6 separate regions of the Homo sapiens genome follow, and all the other regions are linked to region 2. Evidence: fine-mapped expression QTL. A gene starts in region 2. Each other region holds a variant in brackets. All regions are shown on one strand. Distances are from middle to middle.

Region 1 (5,077 bases), 470 kb after region 2:
CCTGCCCCAGGTCCCACAGTGTAGAGAGTATCTCCTATCACAAACATTGTTCAGGTTCCACTTCTCCACATCTCTTACAATGTGCCCTGAATAAGAGGCAACTGATGATGAATGGGGATGCAAAACATAGTATATACATACAATGAAATATTATTCAGCCATAAAAAGGAGTGAGGTTCTGATACGTGCTATAACATGGATAAACCTTGAAAATATTATGCTAAGTGAAATAAGCCAGACACAAAAGGACAAATACTGTATGATCCCACTTACTGGAAATATCTAGAATGAGCAAATTCACACAGGCAGAAAGTAGATTAGAAGCTACAGCAGTGGGGGAAGAGGAGGAATTATTGCTTAATGGGCACAGAACTTCTGTTCGGGATGATGAAAAAGTAGATGATGATGCTTGTACAATATTATTAATGTAATTAATGCCACTGACTTGTACACTTAAAAATTGTTAAAATGACAAATTTTGTTATATATATTTTATCACCCCCTGCCTCCAAAGGAAACTGCTGCTGAATTCCATGAAGTTCTGTGGATTGTGCTGCCATGACTTCGTAGACAGACACTGCTTAAGTAAGAGCAAGGGGAAGATTTGAGCTGCAGAGCTTTTATTTAAGAGGGAAAGGAAATTAACTCATCAAAGCCTTTCTCTGGGTATGAATGCAATAGTTTCTGGCATAAGGAAGCATTGTTTCCTAGTGGTGCCAAGCATCAGTTTTCTTGCCTCTCTCCATGTTCTAATTCAAGGTTCCAAATATGCTCACAAATTAACACAGTATCCACAGCAGTTGCAAATGTTAGCTGAAAAACAGTAACAATTCGTATTACCCTTACACTGGTACATATTTAGGCCTAGATGTAAAGTGCATGAACTGTAATAGTCATTCCTTATATTGGCAACTATATGGATAGTAGACATTAGAATTGTGAATACCTTCTTTAAAATAGAAATATTTAATGAGTCCATTAAATTTTCAAAAAATTATAATAAAAATTGCAGCTTTATTTTAAAAATTTAAAATCATCTGAAGGGCAAGACCATCATGATGGTACTAATACAGCTGACAAAAGAAAAGGTATACATGCCAGAATTTTGGCATAAATTCCAGAAGTATTTTTTATGCCGTAAGTAATGCATCGTCTTTTGAATGTATTGCTAGGAGTTGTGTCAATAACAGTGACATTCTTTGGAACAATTTGGAAGATAGTTATGATATTTTCTGAATCTGCCCAAAGGAAAAAACATCCTAATTAAATATATACCAAATTTGACCTTGCAACCACTGTCAAACATGTGGTGGGAATGCTGACTAAAAAATTTAAGTGATTAATTCTAAGACAAAAGAAGATGCACTAAAAGAGAACAACAGAAGATTCTCAAAGCCTTTTTGGAGGAAAATGAAATCAATTTTGAATTGTGCTATCAATAGTTACTTGATATGGATAATAATGTTAGCAAAAGCTTACCAATAGTGTTAGCAATAGCTTTAAAAAAAAACTCATCAAAAACAATTATATCTAAGTTAGACTATTTCATTTATAAAAGAAGCTACTTTTTTTTTTTTTTTTTTTTTTTTTTGAGATGGAGTCTCACTCTGTTGCCCAGGCTGGAGTGCGGTGGCATGATCTCGGCTCATTGCAACCTCTGCCTCCCAGGTTCAAATGGTTCTCCTGCCTAAGCCTCCCGAGTGGCTGGGAGTATAGGCACCTGCCATCATACCTGGCTAATTTTTGTATTTTTTAGTGAAGATGGGGTTTCACCATGTTGGCCAGACTGGTCTTGAACTCCTGACCTCGAGTGATCCACCCTCCTCGGCCTCATAAAGTGCTGGGGTTACAGGCGTGAGCCACCATGCCTGGCCCCCTTTTTTTTTTTTAATTTGAAAGAAAATACATTTTCTAAATCAAAGAGAAATTAGAAAAAGGAAATGAAAATATTTGCCTAATTATGAAGAAGATTCACAATCTTAATTTCTTTAGATAATATTTTCTGGTCATGGTAGATAAAGGCATATTATTCAGAGAAAAGTATTTCAGTGACTGTCTTATCATTTTGGGGTTTATTTTGTTGTTATTTCTGGAAAAGTTACTTAAATCCCATGAAGTAAGTAAGGGGATGTGCATTGTTTGAAAAAGTTTTAATTTTGTCATTTAATTGGAAAATGAGAACAATGGTTATTAATTCTGAAATAAAAATGAAAGGAATATAGTAAACAATTTTCTCCACCAGCAAGATACGCAGTAGAGAAACCTTGGGAGAAGATAAGAGACTGGGAATGAAGGCATGACATGTAAGGATCTGGAGCTAATGGGAAATGTTGGGAAACATGGAAGGTCAGGTTTCAGTGACACCTTGCCAGCCTGAAGGTCCAAGGTGTAGGGGAAAAGAGAGAAGGAGAAGATAGGGGAAGGGAGGTTCTACAGACAGGTAGAGAGTTGAGCATGATTACAGGACTCAGAAGACAGTGGGGAAATAGGCCCAACTGGAGCAAGGGAAGTGGGTTCATGAGCAGAGGGAACTGCAGCCCAGAAATCCCAGTAGCAATTTTCTTCTTCCTCTGAAACACTTTAAGACTTTTGGTATGTATTGTCCAAATACTTTCCAAAAGCGCTATGCTACTTTACCCTCCCACCAGCAATTCGTGAGAGTTCTCATTTCACTGTATTCATGCCAGTATTATTGTGTTTTAAACTTCATTTAAAGTTTGAAAATTTGATAGCCTGCCAACATTTCTAAAATGGTAGCATTCCCTATTTTGAAAATGTTTCCTGAAGACTTGTAATGCCCTCAGCCTTTGGTATAATGGGAAGAGCCCTGGGCCTGAGCTAGGTGTCAGAGCCCTTACCTACAGGCCTTGAGGACAAGTCCATGCGCCTCTCTCCATCTGTAATGTGAGAGTCAAAAAACAGGCCCCTGCATGGTGCCATAGTGGTTGAAAAGGTTAAAGGAGATAATAAAAGTGAACAGTCTTCGTACATAGGAAAATTCTAGATAAC[T/C]ATAAAATTCAAGATAATTGTTATATATTAGTATGCTACATGGTTAAGACTTAATCTGAGCATTTTATAGGATAAGTGTGAGCTTAAAGATGTAGCACTTCTGATCCCAATTTTTAAAAATCAAAATCAGAGGTTGGGGAAAGGACTAAATAGGTGATCCAGAATTTCATATAGAAAATGAAATATATAAGAAGAGCCAGGAAATTTCTTGAAAAGTATAATTAGGGAGGGAGTTATTAATTAACTAGGCCCAATATCAAAACATTACAAAGCTACAGTAATTCAATTTGATGTTAATACATAAATAGATAAATTGAGCAGCCTAGAAAGATCAGAAATACACCCAAATATGGATAGCAAGTTTAGCATATGATATAGAAAAAATTCCCAAAATATGTTAGTAACCACACACACACACACACACACACACACACGCACACACACACACACACCTCTTAGGTATAGAGCAGCAGAAAGATACATAGTGTTATTTATATTAAGGGGGTAATTAAAGATATATTTTTATAGCTATATGTGTATACATATATATGCTAGTATATACATAGAATTATCTGGAAGGACACATGAAAATCATAAAAGTAGTTGTTGCTGAGGAGATAGATGAAAGCTTATTATTTAATATTTCCCTATGCTATAATTTAGAGTTTCTAAACCAATTTTCCACTATTACCTATTTATTAAAATTTTAGAGACAATATTAGCTCAGAGTAAGGCTGAACCAGTGAGTACTTCTATAAACCAAATATTTCAATATTTTTTTTTTAGTTTGTACTCAGATATTTTAGTGGCCTACATGTCTGATATGTCAGGAATTATATATACCTACCTTTCCACAGTTCTTTGCATAGTGCTAGGCACAAAGTTGGCTTGCAGTGAAGACTTTCTGGGGTGTAAAGGTGACTTTCCTTTACACATGGAATGGGTCTAATTTACGAAGCTAGATTGCGTAGTTGGCAGTTCTCTTAAATACTTTCCCCATAGTACCAGTGTGAAATAGCAAATTTTTGGCAGCCAGGCAAGTTCCATGAATTCATGCGTAGTATGTCTTTTCTGTTTAGAATTGAGATTCAGTGCCCAGTGTCTAGCTTTTAAAAATGGTATTTCTGGCCAGACACGGTGGCTTATGCCTGTAATCCCAACACTTTGGGAGTCCTAGGTGGGCGGATCACGAGGTCAGGAGATCGAGACCATCCTGGCTAACACGGTAAAACCCCGTCTCTACTAAAATTACAAAAAATTAGCTGGGCATGGTGGTGGGCGCCTGTAGTCCCAGCTACTTGGGAGGCTGAGGCAGGAGAATGATGTGAACCCAGGAGGCAGAGCTTGCAGTGAGCTCAGATAGCTCCACTGCACTCCAGCCTGAGTGACAGAGCGAGACTCCATCTCAAAAAAAAAAAAAAAGAAAAGAAAAAAAAGTTATTTCTAAAAATCTTGCTACATTTTTGCACTGGTTAAAATTAAATTCTTTGGACACATGGGGAGTTGTTAAAATTTTTTCCTTGAGAAGGTCAATGAAATGGATTTCAGCAGTTTTGGTTATTTCTTGCTACTCTTTCAAGTTCTCCTGGCTCTTTGGTCCTCCACAGTTCCTTACTTTACCATAGTCAGAGCCACATCATCAAAACTTATCTTCAGAAAGTAACTAAGCAAGTTTTGTTTTTCTTTTTCTTTAACTTAACATTGAGGAAAATATAGATAAACATTCATTACTAATATTTTTAGCAAATCAGAAATTTTGAAAGCCTGTGAGGTCAGCATCTCACAAAATGGAGACAGCCATGTTGTGTACAAGATGAAAAATATCACCTTCCAAAACAATAATGCCTGTAACAACCGCATACAAATTAGAGTATAATAATTTTACTGTTTTCCTTTTTTGAGACAGAGTCTCACTGTGTTGCCCAGGCTGGAGTGCAGTGGCATGATCTGGGCTCACTGCAACCTCTGCCTCCCAGGTTCAAGCAACTCTCCTGCCTCAGCCTCCCAAGTAGCTGGGATTACAGTTGTGTACCACCATGCCTGGTTAACTTTTTGTATTTTTAGTAGA
Region 2 (5,077 bases):
GTAGCATCCACATGAGAAGAAACCACTTCTGGCCGGGTGCGGTGGCTGACACCTGTAATCCCAGCACTTTGGGAGGCCGAGGCAGGCAGATCACAAGGTCAGGAGTTTGAGACCAGCCTGACCAACATGGTGAAACCCCGTCTCTATTAAAAATACAAAAATTACCCGGGCGTGGTGGCACACGCCTGTAATCCCAGCTACTCAGGAGGCTGAGGCAGAAGAATCGCTTGAATTGGGGAAGAGGAAGTTGCAGTGAGCCGAGATCGGGCCACTGCACTCCAGCCTGGGTGACAGAGCGAGACTCTGTCTCAAAAAATAATAATAAAAAGAAACCACTTCCATGGAATCAGAGAGATGGTTCCATATTAGCCATGACTTCTGCTGCTCTTTTGAGAATGTGGGCTTACTACCTAATCATTTTAAGATGCCCATGGGCACTTTTACTTAGATACATGCACTTTCTCTTTGCACTAGTGAGTCTACGTGAATATTACATGCCAGAGGAACGTTAAAGTCTACGCTAACAATGCTTCATTTTTCTTTAACAATTTTGTCCAGGTCATGGAGACATTTTTGTGGAGTGATAAATTAACTTGGTCTCCTGATGTGTTTTCCCCACATGCCTTGGAAAATCACTTGTTTTTCTGAGAGGTGGTAGTCATCAAAGCCTTAACTTCAGCAACAGCTTCGCTGTTTTAGCTTTGTTATAATTAAGATACCCTAGTACCATTGATAGTTTAGGATATTTGATATGAATGTAATGCAAAAATATTTTTGGCCCTTTGTATATAGCAATGGTCTCAAACTATGAGCAAAATTATGGCTAAATCAGATTTTCAAAAATGGATTTTAAGAAATTCCAGGAGGTAGGAACCTGGTTAACTCATGTGACTTTAAAAATCAGATCTCTGCCAACAGCCCAATTCAGTTTCCTAAGAATAAATTTTTAAACTTCCTGTATCAATGCCTTAACTCAGTTTCCCTTCTCCATGTGTCACTCTCATTAACTTTTGTTGTGCGTGATTTTTTTTTTTCTTTTTTTGACGGAGTCTAGTTCTGTTGCCAGGCTGGAGAGCAGCGGCGTGATCTCGGCTCCCTGCAACCTCCGCCTCCCAGGTTCAAGCGATTCTCCTGCCTCAGCCTCCCGAGTAGCTGGGACTACAGGCACGTGCCACCACGCCCGGATACTTTTTTGTATTTTTAGTAGAGACGGGGTTTCATCATGTTGGCCAGGATGGTTTCGATCTCCTGACCTTGTGATCTGCCCGTCTCGGCCTCCCAAAGTGCTGGGATTACAGGCGTGAGCCACCGCGCCTGGCCTGTGTGTGATTTTATGCAGGCTGGACACCAGTATCCTAGAATAAGATGATCTGGATTCTATCCTGATAAACTGGATCAAACAGGTACTCATCTGATGCAGGTGAAACTCCAGTGCAGGAACTTCTATGATAACATTAACTGAACATAATTTTAATTGAAATGATCTACTTTTATGTTTCTTTAGATGTGAACATTAATTTTTCTCTTAATCTTCTGTTAACTAATTTCTTGGTAATGTACTCAAAAGAGCTTTCAACCAGTCTTCCCATGTAAGAAGTTATCACCATACTCACTCTGTTACTTTCCCTTATACTGCACACTTTGCTCAGCAATGAATTGATCCCTGATTTACACATCAAGCTGAGCTCTCACATCCTAAATATATCTATTCTTTTGGAATTTTAGGTATTTGGCAAATATTGAAGCGTTGGGGAGATTAAAGAGAATCAAACACAACACTAGCAGACTCAACTACAATCCACAGAGGAAATAACCAAATAAGTTGCTATTTTAAACAATTTAAGCAAATAGAAGGAAGGGATTTCAGAACTCACAGTATCTATAGGCAAGAAAATAACTGAAGCAGTGATGCTTAAAAAGACTTGGTGAGGGTTAATACTTGAATCCCTATAAAATACAGTATTTTATAGTATTTGACAACACAGGTGTGAAGGTGAGCATGGATAACCAGTTTTCTTCTCTAAGCAGGCAATAAGAATGTTAAATATAAATAAGACTTCATATAATATAAAGAGTGAAAGACTGAAAGCATTGTCTTACGACTACTGTATTATTTAAAGAACTACATCTATATCAATTAAATGTGGCAGGACAGAATGTACAGTACAATACTGGGGGTGCAAGATTTTAAAATGAGGAACAGGCCAAAATCTAAACACAGAATCGTCCAAAAAAAAAAAAAAGCCTTCAAGTAGAAAAAGTTTTCAATAACAAAACATGGTAGTTAAACGCCTGCGTCTAGTAACATGAGTTGGGGAAAAAACATTAATAGCAGATTAATGAAACAGATTCTGTGCGAGGTCAGGGTAGGGAGTGATGGCGCGCGGAAGCGGCGTAAGAGCTGGTTTCGCCGTCCCAGAAAGGGTTCCACATCCACACGCCTGTACTGCGGCCCTGCGGGGAGCGTTCAGACCCCTCCGTTTCCCTTCACCATTGTAAACGCGCAATCCCATTAAGATCCCGTTCACTCCAATTCCTGGAAAGAAGCTTAGAACGGTGAATCTCTTCCTCGGAGTTGAAAATCAACTTCCAGTGCCGGTCACCCAATCCTTCAAAAATCCTAGCCCTCTCGGGCCCAATTCCTAAAGAATTCAAGCCTGCACCCTGTACACCCTGACCGATCTCAGCTCGTCCCCACTCCGCTCCCAGCGTCCCCAGCTCTAAACGCCGCCGCGTGGCTCAGCGCTGCCCAAGCCGGGCCCTGAAGGCCGCGCACAACGCCCCGCCCCCGGCGAGCGTGGCGGAAGTAGCTCGCTCGGGCTGGGAGAGCGCGCGCCACCTGGCCAAGCGCGCATGCGCCCGCACTGCCAGTGCGGGGGGCGTCCGTATCGCTTACTCCTCAGTCTCCGCAACCCCCGCCCCACCGAGAGTCGGGCTCACGCCATCTTGTACCCCCCCCATCGCCCCGTCACACAGCCGAGTCACCTTTTCCCTTTCTACACTCCACACTCTCAGTCCCCCACCCCGCCCCTTTCCAAGCGTGTCCCGGGCCGCAGCAGCAGAAACCGCACCATCTCCACCCCCACATTCTCCTCGCGGGAAGCGCAGCAGTGCCTCCAAGGGTTCTTAAAGCAGAGGTTGTAGGGCTTGCGGGGGGCGGTGCGGGGATTCGGGCGGGGGAGACGTCAGAGAGCCGGGAGGGACGCAGAGCGGAGATCCCAGCGTCGCTGGGCCCCCGCGCCGGCCACGCCCTGGCCCCGGCTCGAGGGCGGCTGCCTGGGTCTTCGTGGTCTACGCCGGAGTGTTGAAGGGAGGGCGGCTGTGGGAGGCGCTGGCCGGGCGCAGCGCCCTGGTTCCGCTGCCGAGCGTGGAGTTGCCTCTCGACTCCTCCCTTTTGGCGGGTGGGCGTGGGGTGAGGGGGGCTGGGCTGTGCTGAGAAGCGGGGTGCGCGGGTCGTCTAGGTAGTGTGGGGGCTGCCGGAGGAATCATTAAAGAGGGAAATTGTTGCTTTATGGCACGGCGAGAGAAGAGTTAGGTAGTTAGTGGGAGTGTAGCATCCAGAAAGAGGAAAAGATCCGCTGTGTTCTCTGTGGGGTGAGCTCACGTCTGTGACCCCTGGGGAAATTATTTAGCTTGTCTTTGCCTTGTTTTGGTCTGTAAAATGGCGATCTTATAGCCTATTTCAGAATTGTGAGGATTATATGAGAAAATACACGTTAAACGCTTAGAACAGCGCCAGGTGCTGCTCAGTACATATTAGCTCTGCTTTTGCTCTCCACGTTTTAGGAGTTCAGAATGACTGTGACCTTATTTTCTCAGAGAATCAGGACACTTGGTCTCACACGTGAGAGTGAAGTTATGAAGACAGTGATATGTAATATTTGACACTCAGACGATCCTGGACGTAGTATTACTGTACACGTGGATAAATTAGCATTTCTCCAAGAGGCTAATAGAAATGTTAAGTTATTTCGGTAGAAAGAAATGTGTGTGTATATATATGTATATACATATGTGTGTATATAAGTATATGTATGTGTATATATGTATGTATGTATTTGGAAGGAGAGGACCTGGGGTCTTAGTATATGTGAAGGGCAGACTCTGGAAGAGGAATTAAATTCGCCCTGCAAAGATTTACTTGAAGGACAAAACTTGGGGAATTTCTGGTGAATGTTTCAAAGAGGCTGAATTTGCCTATGAGAAACAGTTCGTGAGAGTACTTTGCAAGAATGGAATGCTCTTCATTGTGCTATGGAAAGTTTCTTATCTCAGGATATTCGGGACGTTGGAGCGAAGTATGCCTAAGTCTAGGGCTGCACTTTTCACTAGCAGTTTCTGCCTTGATGGAGATGTTCCATAATCTGTGCCTTTAGGCACTAGTGGTAGCCTAGGCACAGTGGCTCTTCAGCACTTGAAATGTGATAAGTGTCACTGAGGAACTTAATTTTTAATTTTATTCATAAATTAATAAATTGATTTACGTTTAAATACCCACATGTGGCTAGTGGTAGCTACTGCATTGGACAGCACAGGGCTACAATTTAGATTTTGAGAGTCCTTCCGAGTCTTGATATGGTTGAGTTTTAAATCAGATAAGCCAGCTCTTTGGAACATTTATTGCCATAGGGAATTGTAATTATATTCAAATAATGCCTTTCATTCAAATACTGCAGTTCAGACCATGGGTCTGTTAGTACTTATTTACATCTTGACAAATTAAAGCAAAACGTTGTCTCCTAGGTTGTACAGCTAATGCCAGATTCAGAGAGCTATGACAGTATTAACTGGAGTTTTCTTTAAACATTATTGTACTATTTTGTGATTGTCGGTTTCTGCTATCTTTTACCACTTTGGTTGGTTTTTCAGTGAGAAGTTTCCAGCTCTTATTCAAGTTTTTTTCTTTTTTAACCTTTTGTGTAATAAAGCGATTTGAAAAATTGTAACTCTTGAGCATTAGGACATTTTAGAACTAGTTTTATGGTTATCCAAATCTTTTGGAGAGATAAGTGAAATTAGGTAATAGATGTTTCACAAAATTACTTTACTTGAAATATGTGCATCTGTTTTTTTTTTT
Region 3 (5,077 bases), 450 kb after region 2:
TTTTTGAAAATTTAAAGAATATCATAAAATTTAGGCCTAATCAGGATGCTAAAGATGAATTGATGTATAAGTATAATGCTCTTCACACGTGTTTATAGCTGATATAAGATTATTAATAACAAATATGTACATTTTATGTTAATTCTTCTGAAGCAATTTTGAAGAATATAATGCTAGAATCACTGCTATATTAAAAATTCTAAACTTTGGATACATTTTTAATTTGAACAGATTATTAGCACCTTGATAAAGGACTAGATGTTGACAGACAAAGAGAATGTGAAGATATTTGTTGAGGTGGAAAAAAAAAAAACTGGGATTATAACGTTTAAAGGCTTCCTTCCGGAGAACTCAATGAGCAAATCAAGAAAGTATAAAAGTGCGCCTAGTAGCTTCATTATGCTAATGTTAACAGTTGCTGAATTATGGCAGATAAACCTGAAATTGGCAAAATGGAAACTCTAATGACATTTTTCACAAAATTCAATGTTTTTATTTTAATATAATTTAATGTCACATTTTGGCAAAAATAGCATGATTCAGCCAGGCTGGCTTATGTGTCTCCATATCTTACAAATGGCAGTCACAAAATTTTTCTAACTTAGCTTCTATCTTAGTCCATTTGGGCTTCCATAACAAAATCCTGTAAACTGGGTGGCTTATAAACAATAGGAATGTATTTCTTATAGTTCTGGAGGCTAGGAAGTCCCAGATTAAGACATTGGCAAATTCAGTGTTTTGTGATGGCCCACTTCCTGGTTCATAGGCAGTCATCTGTTCACCCAAACCTCACATGGCAGAAGGGGTGAGTGGTCTTTCCCTGGTCTCTTTAAAAGGGAACTAATTCCATTCATGAGAGCTCCACCCTCGTGGATAAATCAATTCCCAGAGGCTTCTTATCCTAATACCATCACTTTGTGGGCTTGGATTTCAACGTACAAATTTTAGGGGAACACAAAGACTTACCATAGTAAACCTCCTACTTCAGTTTTTGATCAGTGTTTCATATAATATCTTAGAGATAGCTCCATAGGAGTATGTAGGGAACTGCCTCATTCTTTTCAGTGGTTGCTTTGGTTTCTGTTTCTTTGAATGGATAATTTATTTAACCAATCCCTCATTAATGAACATTTAGTACTATAGTAAGTATCCTTATGTATATATATTATTTTGTACCTGTGCAATATATCTGTAGGATAAATTCTTACAGGTGAAATTGCTGAGTAAAAGAGGTTGTTCTTTTTCATTTTTATAAGATTTTGCCAAATTGCTATCCATAGAGGTTGCTATCTATAGAGTTATATTCCCTACAAAGAATTATGAGTAAAAAATGTATTAATTATCAAAAAAATACAGTAATTATCAGAAAAACAAATAATATTAATTCTGTGACTACAAATGACTTCTAGACCCGTTATAGTAATATGCAAGTTAATTCTTTAATGTTGATGGCCTGCCATCTGCTACCTACTATACTTTGAAGTAAATGAGCTTCCATTTCAAAAACTTAGCGATCCCATTTTTAACACTTAATTTAAATAACCTAATACTATTACTAGCTAACATTACCCAGGAGGCTGAGTCAGGAGGATCACTTCAGCCCAGCAGTTCAAGACCATCCTGGGCATCATAGCGAGACCATATCTCTAAAGAAATTAATCCTTTTTTTTAGCCATATGTGGTGGCACTTGCCTTTAGTCTCAGCTACTTCAGAGGCTGAGGCCAGAGGATCGCTTGAGCCCAGAAGTTTGAGGCTTCAGTGAGCTGTGAGCACACCACTGCACTGCAGTCTAGGTGACAAAATGAAACATCTCTTTATAAAAATAAAACAATTTCCTAGCATGTGTCAGGCATTGTTCTAAGTGGTTTATGTATTTCAACTTATTTAATTTTCACAACAGTCCTACAAGCAATTATAATTGTTTTCCCAATTTACAGGTGAGGAAACCGAGGCCCGAGATATTATGTATCTTGGCAGAGCTGGTAACTTGTAGGGCTAAACCCTAGCCCTATAAGTTATTTTGAAAAATCATGCTGAACACACATATACACATCTATAATTTCTTAAGTTTGTATTCACACTCTCATCGCAAATAATCCTTATCTTTTTTGTATCTTTTTGTGCTTGCAAACCTGCCTTTTACAGATGCGGCAAATTAAAACAGAAAGTTGTTGGTTTCGTTTTTGTTTTGTCCTGAGATACCTAGAAAATTAGAAACCAAGTTGAAATGGTCTTATGACAATCCCAGGTATGATAAATAAATGTATCATAATTTAACATTTTTCATTTTAAGTTGATGACCCTCAAGTTATTTCAGAAATGTGCCAAAGAAGCTCCTAAGAAACGTTTATAATAATAAATGTTAAAATGTTTTTTTTAAAAAAATAACTTCCTGTGGTT[C/T]TTTCAGTAAGCTTTCATGACACTTTTTATCTGCAGGCAAGTGGCTGTATTCTCCTGTGTCTTGACATGCAGGCTTAGGTGAAATATTGTGGGCATAAAAATTGCGTTTGGTAGGTCTGCTAGAAAGGGGTCATGTAAAAGTCATCTTTGATTTGTTAATGGAATTCTTTTTTAGATGTAGTATATGGCAGTAGTGATGTGCATCCTAAGGGAAAAACCGGTCTCTTTTGTAAAGGTTTATTTTCATATTTATACACTGTAGTTCTGTTGCGTGTTTTTGATTTAGTAACAATTTATGTGTTTTTCTGTCGCAGAGCACTGCAGCCTGTGGTGTTGAGGCTCACAGCGATGCCATCCAGCCCTGCCACATCAGAGAGGCCATTCGACGCTACAGCCACAGGATTGGCCCACTTTCCCCATTCACAGTACGTAATAACAGAGTTATAAAAAGTTATATTTATAATATGAAAGAATTTTGATTTTCAAGTGGTCAAATGAAGAAGCAATGGAATTGTTGAAAGCAATTTGTGGTGACTGTAATTTTGTTGTATAAAAGTGGCATAATTCTCTTGGGAAATGAAAGTCATTTTCATCTCTTTTTGGAAGGACACTTTTTTTCTACAAAATATTATTTTCTTTCAATTACAAATTAAGTTTTTTTGTTGAGGTTTATAGTTTCTATTTTTCAAAGCTTAGGTTTATAAAACGTTATTCTCAAATTATATGTATCTAAATATTGCTAGTAGCACTTTATATTTTAAAATTGGTTAGATTGGCATTACCACTTCTATCAGATATCCTTCTCCTAAACATGCTTTTAGTTGGAAGAAGAAGAGATATTTCTTTACTGGCTTTGAACTAAGCTGAAATGCAGACAGCCTTTTACATCTTCAAATGATTTGAAAACTTATAATCAGGGTTTTGTGTTGTTTTAATGGGGAATTAAAGACCTGATATTTCAACAGTCTAAAGAAAGTGTGTGCAGGTGTGTGTGTTTTAATTAAATGCTCATCTTATGGCCCTTTAAAAAAAAGATCTTATTTGTGTTAAGAGAAATTTCTTCAAGTCCTACTCTGTTTATAAGGAAGTAGTTCAACAGAAAGTAAAGTTTGATATACCTAACTGAGGAAAGTCAAATTTACTTTTTTGATACTCTGTTTTAACAAGCTAATGAAAATGTATATGTATAACATTATACATAAACAAATGAGAAAATAAATAGTATTACATAGTATACATTTTTACCTGAGTGGATTTTACTATTCATAAAAGTCATGATTTTGTCTATATTATCTTTTTTCCTTATGTTTAGTTAAATAGAATGCTTTCTTTCCATCCTTTATTTTTTTTAGTTGTTGTTAATTATGTAGATAGATTCTCTGTGTAACAGGAAGAACATGTTTTATAAATGTCTCCAGAAGCTCTCTGTAATGGTGAAACTTTGCACTTTTAATATTTGAAGTTTATCTTATATAAGAACATGATTTTAATATTGCTGATTAAAGCAATATATCCTTTTGCATGAATGTTTTTGAAGTCTTATAATTGAAAAGAAATAATTAAATCAAGTTTCTTTTACATGATGGGTGAAGCTGTTTTAAATGACAGGCCAGAAGGAAGATGAACATGAAAAATTATGAATGAGAAAAATAAGAGATAATTGGAAGTAAGAATTTAAAAACCAACTGAGAGTGAAAAAAAACTTATAATGAAAGATTAAAAATATCAAATCCATCGAAAACAGTCAAATAATGATGAATAGGTTGAGACAGTGGAAGGGAAAAAGAAGAAAAAAGAGGCAGTGTTTGATAATAATCTAGAAGCAATTAAAAGATAGCAAAGGGAAACATGATTTTTGAGAAATAACCTAAAATGGTAACTAAAAGTAATGAATAAGATTACATAAAGGAAAATGTATCTGATACAAGGAGAAAATGCCCTAATCATGAAGTCTGCATTATTTCCTCAAAAAGAAGCGGTAGCTGCTTCTCTCTTCAAAGTTTTTGTTTTTAAAATAGACTGGACAGATCACCTGAGAGCCATCGTGGTTGATGACACTATTTACATACATGTGTGTGTGTATATCTTTTCCCCCATGTCCAACCTGGTACTTATGTATTACTACTTTTACAATCTAAGACTGTTAGTATTAGTATATGATAAAAATGCACTTTAAGCTAGCTTCAGGTATTGCCTAAGCTAATTTGGATCTAATAAACATAAAGAATGGGCTTTTTAAAACTGATGACACAATTTTAAAATGCTTAATTTAAATACATCTAGAAAATAAAACAAGCCATGACCTGGAAGGTTCAGTTAGCCGCTAGTAGAACAATCAAACAAAATCAACAACAAATGGTAACAAACTCCACCCCAGAGGGGCACCCAAGGTGTTATTATTCCTCAGGAGGGGACCACCACCTGGAAAGGTCTCCTCCATTTTCTTCAGCTATGAGAATTTGCGCACTACAAGAGTGAATATGCCTGCACTTTTTTTTTTTTTTTTTTTTTTTGAGACGGAGTCTCACTCTGTTTGCCCAGGCTGGAGTGCATTGGTACGATCTCAGCTCACTGCAACTTCTACCTCCCAGGTTCGAGCAGTTCTCCCTACCTCAGCCTCCTGAGTAGCTGTGATTACAGGCACCTGCCACCATGCCCAACTAATTTTTGTAATAA
Region 4 (5,077 bases), 570 kb after region 2:
TACGGCATCATAGAAAACTATTACACAACTGCATTTGTATTTTTTTTTCCAGCTTCTGTAGTTGTTTGCAGTTTGAAAATCAGTCTCTCATACCTTGAGTTATCAGTCAGGGTTCAGTCACAGAATCAGAACCACTGTGTACTATGGGATGAGGATTACAGGAATCAGACCTTATACAGTTGTGAGAAGAACTAGGAAAGTGAAAGCATAGGAAGGAAGTTGGAGGATCAGAGAAAAAAAAAAAAAAGACCAACCCATCAATGTGAGAAACAAAGAACAACCAAGTGCCAAAAGTGGCTGCAAAGTGATGGCTTATGAGAAGGTATGCAGGAAGCCATGCTTCTGTATAACTGCCACCTTGGCAGGCCCACCACTGAGTGTCTGGCATAAGCTGGGAGCCACTGTTGGTCAACAGCCTCTTCAGTCAGAACTGAATGTGGAGTAGAAGAATGTGAAGACAAGCTAGAACCTGTCAGCATTTCTGTGCCTTCTCTGTACCTGCAAGACCTTCAAAGATCAATAGCTGCTTCATTTCCACCTTCCACATCTGCATACATTTCCCTTTTGGCCAACTCTAACTCAGAACCCTGTAGGGAATGGGAAAGTAGTTTAAGTTTCACCAAGTTGGCACACTACCAATGACTGCAGTCTATCCAACCTTTGTCTACTTGGTACCCATACATACATCTTTTAACCATGTTTAACCTCCAAATAAAGTCAACAGCAAAATGCTTCCACCTAACATGATGCATGCTAACCCTGTCCTCCAAAAAGGGTATAAATACCTTTGTGGTCATCTTCCCAATAACCCATAACCCCTTCTAATCTTGAGCATCATACAAATGTCACTTGAGAGGCATTACAGAATACCTGACCACACTCCTCAAAACTGTCAAGGAAAGCCTGAGAAACTATCATAGCCAAGAGGAGCCTAAGGAGACATGACATAAATGTAATGTGGCATCCTGGATGCAATTCTGGAGCAGAAACGGGACAATGGATAAAAACTAAGGAAATCCGAATCAAGTATGGGCTTTAGGAAATAACATACCAATATTTGTTCATTAATTGTGACAAATGTATCATAATGTAAATTACTAATAATAGAGGAAAGTAGGTGTTGGGTATATGGGAACTTTGTGCTGTCTTCACAATTCAGTAAATGTAAAACTGTTCTAATATAAATTTTTTTTTTTTTTGAGATGGAGTCTCTCGCTCTGTCATCCAGGCTGGAGTGCAGTGGCACGATCTCAGCTCACTGCAGCCTCCGCCTCCCAGGTTCAAGTGATTCTCTTGCCTCAGCCTCCCAAGTAGCTGGGACTACAGGCATGTGCCACCAGGCCTGGCTAATTTTTGTATTTTTAATGGAGACGGAGTTTCACCATGTTGGCCAGGATGGTCTCAATCTCCTGACCTCGTGATCCACCTGCCTCAGCCTCCCAAAGTGCTGGGATTACAGGCGTGAGCCACCATGCCCCGCCAAAAGTGCATTTTTTTTTTTTTTTAGTAAAAGGCTATTAAGTCCTATATGACACATCCATTTTGGGGTGATATTTTTTCCTCTTTTCTCTGAGTCACACTCCCTCTTTAATATCCTGTAACTTAAATACTGAGCTATATGGCTAGCCACTATTAACACATCTTCTATTAAAGATAGGGAATGGAAGTGGGGGAGTAAAGAAAATTAATACCAAAAAAATGCTGTATTCATATTAAAGTAAGAAAGAAATACTTACAACCACTACTGTCATCATTTCTGTAACTGGTCCAATGGTCCTTGCTAGTATTTATAACTTCCGTCTTCTGTTAGCCAGTCCATATCGCCTTTGCCCTTAGTAAACAACTCAGCTGATGTGCTTCCTTGCCTCATGGGGTGATCCTGCCTATTTCTGTTTCAGTTATCTTTTGCTGTGTAACAAACCCACCCCAAACGTTAGTGGCTTTAAGGCAACATTATTTTTTTTATTTCTCATGATTCTGGAGTCAGGCATTTAGATGGTATTTAGCTCTTGTCCAGAGCTGCTGAAGGACAGAAGTATACTCGGTTTGGACCCACAGGCCCAGTCTTGGCTTCTGGAAAAAACTACACCAACAATACATTTGGCCCCTTCACCACAAGGTTTGTTTCCTCCGTGGATCTGGCACTAAGAAATTATATCTATTCGTAACTCTTGCCTGATGAGTAACTTGGATCCTAAATTCTCCCTGCCCTTAATGGCTGTGTGGTGTTTGAGAAATTGCTTTAACTTTGGGGTCTTGGATTCCTCATCTATTAAGTGGGAGCATTGAAGTTCTACTAGATGACTTTAAGACATATTTTTTACTCCTGAAATCTGTTATTTAAGAGGGGCATTTATGGAGTGTGGATTATGGAAAAACCAGCATAAGTGGGAGTCAAAACTTTAAGAATTTATTTCAGCCTAAAATGCCTATTTTTGAAGGGAACCTAATCAAAACTTTTTAAAAATAGTTTTTAATTATAGGTTTGAAACTTTGTGTTATTTGTAATGCCTTTTTAGAAGCCTGAAAATAACATTTCTCTCTGTACCAACTTTGTGCTTTTCCATTTGGTAAACACTGATTTTATTTCTCTCTGTCCCTGTAGGAGTAAACCAAGCCAATTCAGCACTTCCTGTTTA[C/T]TTCCTTGTCATATGTACCATAGATGGTGACAGACCTGCTCTCAAAACAAGCTTCCTTCGTTTAATTCTGCATTTTCTGCTTAGGCAACCACCCTATCAATATACTTGAACAATGAAACAATTTGGCTACGGAAGCACTGTCTCTGAATTCCTCCTTCAACTTGTCAGTGGAAAGGAAAGTCCCTTGGTGGAATGGTAGGAATAGTTTTAAGCGGGGTATCACACAGTGCCTTACAGTGGAGAATATCAAAGCGTTTTCAGCTCTTCAATCTTCGTATGCATGACATGGGTGAACACAAGACTAATAAACAACTTGATTTCCTTAGGAGATTCTCAGTGCTCTATCTGTTTTTTAAGTAAGAAGATTGAGTTTCATGTATATTGAGTGACTAAAGTGTAAGCTTAGAAATATTTTATGTCTCCATCATAGTTTATTCTGTTCAGCATAAATCATCAGAGCCAACCATAACTTAACCATTTACTAGAGCTTTTTCAGAGTCAGTTGTATTACAAGCATGTCAGACACACCTTCCTACAAGTCCCTCAAGGTCAATAGTTGAGAAATTCTGCGTTTTCCTTCCCTTCCCCACTCAACACTTATGGAAATATATGCTAATTGGAACAGAAGCTGCCTACCAAACTAACAGGGTTAGACCACTCTTAACACAAGATTAATGAGAAAGAAGTTTAAGGAAAAAATAACATTTCTCAAGCAGTAAGAAAGTACATGCCAAGTAAAAGCCAACAGTCTGCATCAGTCGGATACCAAACTCTGCTTTCCCTTGACTTTACTTAAAGGAGTTAAAGACAGGGAATCCTGTATGTCCAGCCTTGCTCCAGTCACTGTTGCCAGCCCTTTGGCTCAGTGTGGCTGGCTTCTCACCTTCCTTGGGGCCTCAGCTCAGCAGCCACCATTGTAGAAAACAAGACCACAGACTCAAGGGTTAGAATGAGACTCTATACATTGTTTACTAAGGTGACATGCCAGAAGGAATGATGAGGCACAGACATACTGCATGTGGCCCGCTGCATTCATGACAGGCCTTTGTAGGTGTGTGATTTATATTCATAAAGGGGGGTTCGGAGACAATGGATGTTTAAAGTCACTGATATTGGCAAGAAATTAAGTTTGTGAATCACTCTGCGCCGTTGATGAATGACTGAACTGTGAGTTAGCAGACATCAAGAGCTGTCAGTTAGGAGTGATACTAATGTTCTTTTGAAATAGGTTTAGACAACAGTATTTGCTTAGAAGGAGAAAAGCCTAAAGATCTTATCAATTTGCAGAAACTGTAATTGGCATACTACGTGACATATTTACATTATTTGGCAAGGGCCGGTGAGGGCGGGGGGTGATTTCTCTTAGAATTCCAACCCTTTCAGGATCCAAAGGCAGCCTTCACCTGTGGCACATGCTTAGCTCTTTATAAGCACCCTAAATTTTTCCAAATAAATTTTACACATTTAAAAAGTGATGATCTTTCACACCTAGTGCCCAGATCTTAGTTTCTAAATATCATTCCCCACTGGTATTCAGGGTTCCTTGGAGAAATGCCTGATCCCAGAACCAGGGCAGGGAAAGATGCCTGGAAAAATGAGCCTTGAATATTTTATTGCATAAGAAAATAAGGAACTGGTCAAAGAACCATGGGGAGAGGTCAAAAATGGAGCTGGAAGAGGCTCTTACTGGCCAAATCTGGGACAATTTGAGCATCAAAATAAATGATAGTACTAGTTTGTCACCCATCGAATAAATATTCATGAGTCCATGCAGTATAAATAAGTAAACAGAGGAGAAAGTGAAAAGTCTTCTTTGCAGAAGAATGCCAACTAATAAATAAGAAGGAATAGTAGCATTAAAAGATCATCCATGGTAGAGGAAGACTGATAAGAAGTGGTTTATGTAGTCTCAGATTGTCTCCCCACAAATTACTGATTAATTAAAAAGGAAAAAATAGTAAAAAAGAAATCAGATGTTCTTTAAATTATTTATTGTAAGTACTGTTAATTAAAATGTTATGTTTGTGTTCAAAAATAGATAAGTACTCTTGCTTAAATTTTGTGTTTCTGCAGGCCATGCCACTAAATAAGAAATGCAAACAGGGAGAAATTCATTTATAATAGTTGAAAGAGTATCTCCAATGATGGCAAATCCTTTGATAAAATATATTTTGGTCAAATGCCTAAGACAGCTCCTTTTGTTCAGCCTCAATCTGGAAATTGTTCTTCCCTCCAAAAGCCAGAACAGGCTGACACTGTAGCACATCAGAGGCATATGGGAGCTCTCTGCTCCAAGCACTGCAATTTAAGGGAGATGGGGAGCTACAACATCATGTGGGCAAAGAGGTGGCCATTCTAGGATGGCACTGGAACTCCGTCTGTCCCTTGCCTAGTGAGGACCCTGGCCTTTATTTCCCCCTTTTGTTGTCTATATAAAA
Region 5 (5,077 bases), 43 kb after region 2:
ACATCTGGAAATGCTCAAAAGTTGTTTGCCTTTTTTGAGAGAACAATCTGCAGTGAAAGTATAACTTCTTTAGAGGTGATGTTTAAGTTAGCAAATGCTGAACCATAATGTGAGGAAGCATAATATTGTGAATTATTTGGCAAACATACCTAATACAGGCATTAGCTGTTGAAACCATTTGTAAAGTACAACTTACAGAAAGCTAGAAAGATAGGCTACACAGAACTTTATCTGTAAACTCTGAGGATGAAAACTAGAGTACAACTTAAGTTTATTCAATAAAGACTAAATTCTGTAAGTTTAAGTTTGATTTGTTTATAGGTTCCATGATTAATGTGTAATTAGAGTATGAAAGAAGCATTTAGAATCCTTTAAAATTTATAGGTGATAACATCATTGTCAAGTCAGGAGTTTTGTTTCTTAAAGTTAGAATTTACTTAAATATACTTTTTCTCTAAAAAAATAAAATCTTATTTCTACTTACAGTAGTACCAAAGTGAGTTTTCGCAAAAAGAATTATTTAATATGTATTTAATATTTGTTTCAAATAAACAAAAATAAACATAACAACCAACAGTGGAGGGGCGTCTTAGATTTGTTTTTAGCTTTCTTTTTCATGGCTTCTAGAAGTGTATCATATTATAAATACATTCAAAATGTTTTGCTCTGAGGATATGTAGCATTCCTATAAAGGTTAAATCAATAAAAATGATTTGGACACATTCCTAAGCATGGCTAGAACAGGTAGTCCGTTGTTTTAGGTACCCTTGAGTTTCTGGAGCAGATCATTATGGCGTAGCAAAAGAACTTACTAAAAGTTGCTTTCTATGTGTAGATGCATCAGCTTAAAAAAATAAGATTTTCTGGCCTTCTAGAAATGAGTATTTTTAGAGTAACCCTTGTATATATTGATTTAATTATATATTTTAAATGCAGTTAAAGTTTTGGAGCTTTTTTTTCTTCGAATGCTGGAGATACACCATAATTGATAAGGAAGAGGTACGTACAGGAAAAATGCAATGGCAAGCTTTTCCAGCAAATTTAGAATAAATGACAGTCTTATGGTTAAAGAAAGTATCACACATTATAATTGCAAAATAGGGATTGGATGTGATTCTTTTTAGTCTTGCCAGTTTAGAAAAAAATTCTGTAAGTCATTGGCATGTTGTTCTGTTCATATGGGCAGTTCAAAAGGCAAGCTTTAATTTGAGCTTTTATTTTAGAAAGCATATGTATATCTCCTATGTTCGGGGTTGGCTTCTCACTATATTATTGTTGCTATGTAGTTTTATGCATTTGCTTGCATTTTTTGTGTTCATGTCATAAGTTTTAAGTATGTAAGTTTTCAGATCACACTGTTTTCACAGCAAGTTTCAAAAAATATTTTTATGCCAGTTTATAATAATGAGTAAGGCCATTTTTATTAAAGTTTCCTTTAAAACAGCATTTAAGATGTTTCTGGATCAAAAAAATTAAGTGAATTGACCATGTATTTGAATGAAGAAAGTTTAAAACAGAGGTAGAAAATTTGAGTTACATGTATTATTAATGAAGTTATATTATAGAAAATCACTTCCTATCTTTTTGTACATCTAATATGTATTTACTTTGTAAGTAAATACTTTATTAAAAATACTGTGTTACAGTATTTCTTGGAGCACAGGATTTAATTTTATAGTCAAGAAAATTGTTTGAATACGTCTGAGTAAAAATTTATTGTACATATATAGAGTGGTTTAACCATTTAATAATTAAATAATTTAGCAATTTAAGCCAAGTATTTTGATGTTTTAAAAAATATTTAAGTGTATCTTGATAGATTCTGATTTTAGTGTGTCTTGTGTCTTGATAGGACCAGAATATTTATGAAAATAAAAATAAGCCTAATAATCAGCACATGGCTCTAAATTTTCTTCCTGGGTACTTGTGAGTGATAATGTTAAAAACAGATCACTTTATGTGTTTTCTCTAGTCCTATTGGTGTACAAAAATATTCTGCAATATGCTTATGCGTGTTATAAGGGAGGGATATTGTTAAATCTTTACTACATAATCAAGAATAAAGCTTTCGTGACAGTACTCATTGTCCTTATCTAGCTAACACTTTTAAAATGAAGTGGTTACTAGTGGTAAAAAGTTTTTAAAATGTTAA[G/AG]TTTTCCTTCTAAATTACAGAGAGAGAAATAATGTATATGTGTTTGGTTTTGAAAACTGGGAGAATAGAAGAATTCTGGGTGGACACTGGAGTTTATAATATGTGAAAAGGAGTTTCTTCTGTGGAAAGGAGGTTGGATTAATGATCAAAAGTTGGAGTACATTGACTTGTATATTTCCATTTCTTTAGAAATACACTGTAGCACATTGTCTTTGTAAGTAGTATCTCCATAGGCATTATCTTCTTAAATATTTCATTTTTGCATTGACTCTTATAAGAGCAGTAGCAAGTTTTTCTGCATTTTGTCAAAAGCTGAATTACCGAAATGCTTTACAGATTTCATGAGAGGTAAAAAAATTAATCTTATTAGATTATCTTTTGTAACCATTTATCCTGCCTAATGTTAAGATGCTGTTGTCTTGATGGGAGTTTTCTCATAGATTACTTCATGGTGTCTTAATATTTTTGAATTGGGTGTTAGGTTCTTAGTATGAAATGCTTATGTACTTTCACAGGTATCAGCTTTATGGAAAACACAGTGATTGATATAATGTGGATTGTTAGCATAAAGAAGTTTCCTTTCTGTGATCCTGTACAGTTGTTACAGATATCTGTAATCTGACAGTTTATGAAATAAAATGAGAATTTACTTTTATCTAAAAAAATGTATTTTAATGAGCTGTGTTTGCATTAAAGTATCTTATAATAAAATTGTAATTGATTGAAGAGAATCCATACTGTGTACCTTTTTGATACACATGGATTTTCTAGGATCGTTATAGTGATACAGCAGTAGGTTGACATGTTGTAAAATGTAATACCATATTACATAGTAAAATAAATGTCATGATCCTTTCTTTTAAGCTTCAAAGTAAATTCACATTGTTTAGATACATTTAAATAATTTGTAATCATTTAGTAAAATTATATCTTTTCACTTAAAATTATATTGGGAATTTGAAGTCTTAAACTGGGAAGTTCAGTACAGAAATTTAAAAAGAAAGTTAATTCTAGCAATTATCATAGAAAAATTAGAAATTCAATGCTTAAATTGTTTACCCAGGTTACATGGTCAATGAGAAAATATACCTGTTTAGCTTCAAGCCAGAGTTGTTCTTTGAGATAATATTTATAAATAGGAATCTATTAGCAAATTAATTCCATTCATATTTGCCCTTATAAACTCTAATACTTTGTTTAACTGATATCAGTTTTTAATTATTGTTACTTAAGTTTATAACTGGAAAATAACATCTTTGGATTTTATAAGATTGATTATTTTAGTCTTGAAATTCCTAGTAGATGCCTAATCCCTGTTACTGGTTTTATAGATTGACATTTGTTAACTTACATGCAAAAAAATTTTGATTATATTTCATGACAGAACTATAGTACCTCAGTTACATAATTTACAATTTTTTTCCTGGTTTATAATCATTATTACAAGTTCTGTAGTCATTGGTGTGAATGCATTCACACTCATGCATGTGTATATGCCATGTATAAAAATGTTAAGACAAACATAGCCAGAAGAAATTTAAGTTGAACATATATGACACGTATTTTGTTTCGGTGTAAAAATACATCGTGTTCATGTGAAGTTCTGTGGAATATCACGTTATTATTCTGATATTTCTAAAGAAAGACTGCATATATATGTATTCAAACCTTATTGATGATTGTTATTGTGATTTGGCTAGCATTTAACTTTGTCTTTTTTTTTTTTTTTTTTTTGCTTTTCCTGAAGCACAAAATAGATGTAGGTGTAAGATACATGACTATAAGGAATATGTAAATAATGGTATGGTTCATGTAATTTAGGGGAACCTACAAATGTGTATTTAAGTTCTTGAGTTTTAACTTAGTCTATTATGTAAATATATGTTTATAGTTGATGGTATATAATGATTCTGGTAGACATCATTGATGTAAAAAATCGATGTAACTGAAATGTAAAATAAAATTACCTTATTTGACTTTGTGGTGAAAATTATTTGCCTTACATAGGATATTTAGATATACCTTTTTAGAAATGTCACTAATCTGATGTAACTAATGTATAATTAAGAGAATTGGCAATAGGAATAGTAGAGATAAAAGAGTCTTTAAACTGTTTGCCAAAATAATCTTAGATATATTTCTGGGAATAATGTTAACTTGGTAAATTTTCTAACATCAGTATGATAATTTTTAAATATCTCAAACATTATCGAAATTGCGTATGTATATATGTCAGAGATTTCCTTGTTTTGTGGGCAGTTGATTTAAAAGATGAAAATCATCTAATCAAGGTAAACATTTATCTTTTATTTAGAGCTCAAGTCACCCTTGGTATGATTTTTGTTCCTTGGGTGTATATTGGATTTATGAGTATTAACAAGAATATAGAGTAGAGGAAGTGCATGAATAACAATTTTTTTCTCTTCATGTATTAAGTACTTATGTAGCAACTAGCCTTTAAAGGCCTGTTTTAATTCTACAGCTCATCTTATTTGGGGATTGTTTTTTATATCAGGTTAAATGATATAAAAAATGATTGTTTTTTATATCATGTTAAATGATGCAGTTTCTGTTTATTAGTGTTTATGAAAAACTTTGCTTTAGTTAGGCTTCTTTCTATTCAGCAGTAACAACAAAACCTAAAGTGTTTGATAACATGTTGCTTACATCCACTCAACACTGTTCCAAATCTTGAGTCCTATGCCCTTAATAAATAGTATAAAGGGGAGGAAATTCCTAAGAATTCTACATAAAGTGAAGATACTGTATACAGTAAAAGAGCATTTAATCTGAATTGCTATACAGGTCTTAAAACAGTTGTATGGGAATGTATGGTCTGTTTCATGTGTATGTGCTGTTGAATGGACAAAAGCTTGTGGTTGACTGTGGTTAAAAATGTAAGGAAACTCCCTTTTAATAAGGTAT
Region 6 (5,077 bases), 550 kb after region 2:
GCACAGTAAATCTTCTTAAGCAGGATATTTGGAGAGAAGGTTTTCAAGTTAATTGAATTTTATGATTAAGAGAAGGTTATCTAGAAAACTATATTTGTTTCACCTCATGTTGATGGAAGTCTTTCTAAAAGGGTTAAGTCTACTTTCCATTTTTAGTATAATTAATTATAAATGTGGTTTAATTATTTTTTAAGATGAAGATTTCACTGCCTCCATAGCATTATCTTGATCGTAAAAGGTTATTCTGTATTTCTTAAAATATGGCTGTGGCTGTTCAAGGTTAATTCATTGGGCTGGAAGTATACAGACTCCAGAACTGCTTCAGAGTTATTAGCCTAAGGGGGAAAAATCCCTAACCTGAATTTTATGATTTTCTTTGTTTTTCTGAAAAGATTGACGGTTATGAATTCTCTGGATGTGACTGTTACTAGTTTAAATGATTAAAAATGTGCCAGGGAAAGGGAAATTTTATTCCTAAGTCCTGAATTTTAGTTCTGCTCCCCTCTGGGTCTTATGGTGGAATTCAGGATGTTACAGAGACCCTGTGTGATCCAGGTCTCCCAACACTGAAATGCAAAATATGTCTCTTGGAATGAAAAGCATGCAACTTTTCTTTCTTTACTGAAACGTATTAATTATTGCACTTAGAATCCATTTTCCCATTTTCTTTTATGGGAGTATTTTATCCCACCATGCATATCCATGTGTACATCTGTACGTACAGGTATGTATATAAAATTATATAAGATTTGCATTTTTGATACTGTCTACAATATGCAGAACTATACAGAACTCCTTTGAGATCATCATATTTTAGGGAGGAGGAGAGGCCTCTATTAGTGTCTGTTCCGACAGCTTTTCACTCAGACTATAAATTAGGCCCGGGAAGGGCCAGTAATGAGTCAGTAATTTATAGACTATTAAGATACTTAGTTAGTTAGAAGTGATTCCTGAGCATATCGAATAGAGAACACATGTTTATAAAAGACAAACAGATTCAATACATCTCTTTGGCCTAACCAAGCCCAATCAGTTAACAAAATGGGATGTCTTATTTTATGTATCTGCTACTTCCCAAAAATAGAATCACTAACCACTTGTTAACCACACTGACTTTTTAATAGACAGAATGGTTGCTATAGTTTTGCCACCAGAAATATTCAGATTAAGCATTCTATTAGATTGTAGCCAGCAGAGTCTACAAAACAGGAAGAGGGCTCTGCTTGCTTTTTGCCTCCTTTCCTTGTTTGACTTCATGTGATAATTCATTGCAGATTTCTTTTTCTTTGACAGAATGCCTACCGCAGGAATGGGATGGCTTTTCTAGCCTGCTGATGTGACAACTGTGATGTGCCTGCAACAACAGGAAAGGCAATGTTATATTAAGGTGATTTCTTGTGAACAAAATAAAATACAAATTTACCTTTCTTTTATCTGAGGGAGTGGGCTGGTCTGTTGTGACTTTCAACTTGCTGACTCCTCCTCTTTTCCAGCCCCTCAACCATCGGTCTTGTTTACTAGATGGGCTGTTCAGCTAATTAATGGCAGGATGTTTAGGATAGTCTGTAGGTGGACAAGAATGCAGATCACACAGTTTTGAAATTTTAATTTGAGTAGATTTACTGCCCTCAGCTCACATACCTTAAAAGCAGTGGTTGCCCCCGTCCAGCGTTTTGTCTGCATTTTATTTGATATATTTTATAATCCAGGTTTGGAACAAGGAAACAAAATTAAAAGGACAGTGAGTTTTCGCCTTCCCTTACACCACCAACTTTACTTTCCAACATTTGTTGACATGTGTTTTAGTGACAGCTATCCATTTTATAAACTTACAGTAATCAAAGATCTAACAGACCTGATAAATCACCTGTTCCCACCTCCTTTCCCCTTCACTCCACTTATAGTATGTGTCATTTTCAATGCCTGCTTCCCAACTTCCTGCCATCTGCCTTTCATGTGTGTTTTTCCTCACACAGAACCTCTTCCTCCATCTTCATTTCCCTCCTTTTCCTGTTCCTCCAATCCCCAGATCCACCACTCCTGCACATGCCATACACATTTAGAAGCCAAGTATTCAGAATCAGTAGAAGGGGAGCAGAGTGATTTCTTGCTTCCTCCCTTCAAAGCACTACCACACCTAGACTGGAAATGTGGGCTGGGTAATTTCTTGCTGTTAGCAGCCGAGCTACCCTTCTGGCATCTATACTTTCTCCAGTAAATGAGGAACCGTAACTCTTTGGAACAAACCAAAATATAGCAGATGTAATTGTACAGTTCCTGATTAAACTTCAGTTGCAAAAAAGAAAGTTATTTCTTTAATTCTGTGGGAGTTTTGTATAATTTTACTTTTATGGTTTTTACACATACTTGAAACACTCTTTCTAAAGAATTAATAAAAACAGAAATGAGAAACATGAAAGATCTTTTTCTTGATACTGCTCCTTTTTCTTGATACTGCTCAAGAGAGCAAGCCTCTCTTGATACTGCTTCCTAGATTTAAGGGTAAAGAAAGTAGAAATAGTTCTCCCTTCACCCAAATTTGGAAGTATAAAACTTTCTGAACATGCCATTTAGAGGTTATGTCATTAGCTTTCCTGCCTTCTTATATTGTAATAGTTGCGATTCAAAAACACTGTTTCAATTTTAAATTCAAGACTTTTTATTTGAAAACCATCAGACTCAAAGAATTATGAGGCTCAGTTAATATT[A/G]TTATGCCACATTATTTACATTTGTTAACTGTCATTTACCTGCTCTATGTTAATCTTTTTAGAAAAAATTTGCATTTCAGAAACAAAAAGCACGGATAGATATATAATATCAAAATATTCCCAAAGGATTTTGATGTTCCATCTATGCTTGTTAAAATGTATGATTATGATTAAACTTTTTATCATTCTTATTTTCCTTGGCATCCATAATCATGGAAAATTACAAGCTTGCAGTAAACATCCTAACTTAACTTAACTTTTAAACGATAGCATTTATTGTATTTGGTTTTGATCTGCCAGGCTTATAGATGGTATAAAATTTTCAGGGGATAATTTTTCACATCAAAATTCCTTCTCTCCCACATTATACATTTTAAAGTATGCACAAGGCAGAAAATATAGGGTTTGGGTTTTTTTCCTTCGTTTTATTCCACCTGATCTCCTTATAGTCCCAGAGAAGGAAGACTCAATGTACATTTCTCTCAGAAATATGACAGGTCTGTGTTTTTGTTGGTCTGGCATATGTTTGTCTATCTTGAACAGTCTGACAGGTAATTATTTATAAAATCTGGTTTTGCCCAGTAAGTTCATATAAAACCTTTCATTTTTCATCATAAGCCAGTAAGCTGAATTTAGAATAAAGCAAGGTCATTTATGTCTGTCCTGAACCAGCCTACATGTCCCCATAATTGCTCAATATTTTTAATTCCCTTTTCTATTTTTTATACTTAGGTTCTTTCTCTGACTCTTTGCACAATACTAAATTTGAAGTGAAATAAAACTTCCTTCAGCAGTGACTATAGAAACAAAAGAAAATTTACAGAAGGAATGTTTAAGAAAACTTCAGTAAATTATTTTCTCAATAATCATAATGTTAGAGCAGAAGATAGTCTTAGAGATCATTAAGAACAGCTGCTCATCTTGCAAATGAAAAAACCATGGCCTAGAGAGGGAAAGTGAGTTTCCTAAGATCACTCAATAATGTAGTGACAGACCAGAGATGAGAATCGATGGTCCCTAATTTTCAGTCGGTATTATACAGTATTTTCTACCATACTGGGTTAGCATAAGAATATTACTAAGACATGTTGGGGTTTTATGGCATATTTATCCTAGACAACGATGTAAATTTATTTAAAAACTGTACTAATTATGGATACATCCTAAAGCATACGTGTTATATAGTAAAATCTTCAGTGTGACTGTGGTATTAAGTAAACAGTCTGTTATCTTACACATCAGGCTTAACTCTAAGTCAAATGGAAATATACAAAGCTAGTTTCTATTTTTTGTCCCTTGTATTTTAGAGACTGAATTTGAAAATAAATAAGCCAATAAATAAATAGCGTCTCTTGATACTGCTTCCTAGATTTAAGGGTAAAGAAAGTAGAAATATTTCTCCCTTCACCTAAATTTGGAAGTATAACTTTCTGAACGTGCCATTTAGAGGGTTATGCCATTAGCTTTCCTGCCTTCTTAGATTGTAATCGTTGTGATTCAAAAATACTGTTTCAATTTTAAAACCAAGACTTTTTATTTGAAAACCATCAGAAGCACAAATATTTTTTAAATGGTGTATATAATTCCTGTATCTGGGGAGAACCCTTCATTTATTGCTGTTCTTTGTTTTTATAAAATAATAAACAAGCCATGTCTGATGCTTTTACCATGTAGAAGACAAATAAACATAACTGGTGATTCTTGGTCTGAAAGAAAACATGTTTACTTGTTTAGAATTAATTATAAAGTTTAATTTTATGAATTTTTTTACGTAGTTCTCAAATCAGGCAATGCTTTCCAGTTCATATAACCTCTTGTGTAAAACTGAATCACTAAAGAGAACATATTCTCTCATCTGCCCCCCTGGAATTTGGATAGAACCTTTCCAGGCTACATTTAAAATTCTACCATCAACCATGTATACATCTCATAAAATATTTTACAGTTTCCTGTATGCTCTGGCCGAACATTTCATAGTACATAAACACTCTGCAAATAATCTAAGGGCATCAAGTTGAATATGTCATAGCAGTGGCCACTACAAAGAGCTAATTCTCCAGCAACACAGTTTCTTATTTTTACCTTCTTATTTGAAACTCAAGATGAAACTTTACATGCTATTGTTGTACAGTGGCAGGGGTGAGAAGAGAGCAGGGAACTCTAGCAGTTTTTGTGGAATTGTGTTCATTAAAGCAAAGGCTTTCTGCAGAGGGCATCTAGCCAAGCTTAAACAACAAAACTTTGCCTGCAGGAATTGGATGTAAATGTGATGGTTAAATAAGGGCCAGATGTCGTTAAAAACTCAAATATTAGAAAGTCGTATCTCTTAAAGAAAGTCTCAAATGTTGTAAGTCGGATACTGATACCAT

Alleles and levels. Positions count from the first base shown, and alleles are read on the strand shown. Sizes are in standard deviations (SD) of each study's normalised expression. Not every link is listed here.
As copies of T replace C in region 4, the expression in prefrontal cortex of the gene that starts at base 2,971 in region 2 goes up (moderate effect, 0.58 SD a copy in BrainSeq).

The links. PIP is the estimated chance that this variant, and not a neighbour inherited with it, causes the effect. A credible set is the group of variants that fine-mapping cannot tell apart.
Region 1: its variant is the best candidate, but not a certain one, in a credible set for the expression of SUPT3H in whole blood (TOPMed, PIP 0.63).
Region 3: its variant is the best candidate, but not a certain one, in a credible set for the expression of SUPT3H in whole blood (TOPMed, PIP 0.53).
Region 4: its variant is the best candidate, but not a certain one, in a credible set for the expression of SUPT3H in prefrontal cortex (BrainSeq, PIP 0.76).
Region 5: its variant is the best candidate, but not a certain one, in a credible set for the expression of SUPT3H in tibial nerve (GTEx, PIP 0.55).
Region 6: its variant is the best candidate, but not a certain one, in a credible set for the expression of SUPT3H in cerebellum (GTEx, PIP 0.69).

The regions. Positions count from the first base shown.
Region 1 is chr6:44,907,509-44,912,585 of GRCh38, reverse strand. The region is part of intron 10 of SUPT3H (SPT3 homolog, SAGA and STAGA complex component); the gene reads left to right. Among named protein-coding and RNA genes, the nearest start is that of MIR586, 290 kb to the left of the region's middle. The variant T/C (reference allele first, on the strand shown) is at 3,010.
Region 2 is chr6:45,375,828-45,380,904 of GRCh38, reverse strand. SUPT3H (SPT3 homolog, SAGA and STAGA complex component) reads left to right here and starts at 2,971. Exons shown (of 11, transcript NM_003599.4): 1 at 2,971-3,137. All of the region lies in intron 2 of RUNX2 (RUNX family transcription factor 2), which reads right to left. RefSeq lists silencers at 2,680-2,729, 3,050-3,329 and an enhancer at 2,496-3,039.
Region 3 is chr6:44,930,402-44,935,478 of GRCh38, reverse strand. SUPT3H (SPT3 homolog, SAGA and STAGA complex component) reads left to right here. Exons shown (of 11, transcript NM_003599.4): 10 at 2,716-2,826. Among named protein-coding and RNA genes, the nearest start is that of MIR586, 260 kb to the left of the region's middle. The variant C/T (reference allele first, on the strand shown) is at 2,402.
Region 4 is chr6:44,807,030-44,812,106 of GRCh38, reverse strand. All of the region lies in intron 2 of LOC101929770 (a long non-coding RNA gene), which reads right to left. It also overlaps a transcript of SUPT3H not described here. Among named protein-coding and RNA genes, the nearest start is that of MIR4642, 370 kb to the right of the region's middle. The variant C/T (reference allele first, on the strand shown) is at 2,640.
Region 5 is chr6:45,333,259-45,338,335 of GRCh38, reverse strand. The region is part of intron 2 of SUPT3H (SPT3 homolog, SAGA and STAGA complex component); the gene reads left to right. The region is part of intron 2 of RUNX2 (RUNX family transcription factor 2); the gene reads right to left. Among named protein-coding and RNA genes, the nearest start is that of RUNX2, 7.5 kb to the right of the region's middle. RefSeq lists a silencer at 4,958-5,077. The variant G/AG (reference allele first, on the strand shown) is at 2,153.
Region 6 is chr6:44,826,074-44,831,150 of GRCh38, reverse strand. It overlaps SUPT3H (SPT3 homolog, SAGA and STAGA complex component), which reads left to right. Exons shown (of 11, transcript NM_003599.4): 11 at 1,294-4,425. The coding sequence ends at 1,335. It overlaps LOC101929770 (a long non-coding RNA gene), which reads right to left. Exons shown (of 3, transcript XR_926855.3): 3 at 1-1,563. Among named protein-coding and RNA genes, the nearest start is that of MIR586, 370 kb to the left of the region's middle. The variant A/G (reference allele first, on the strand shown) is at 2,709.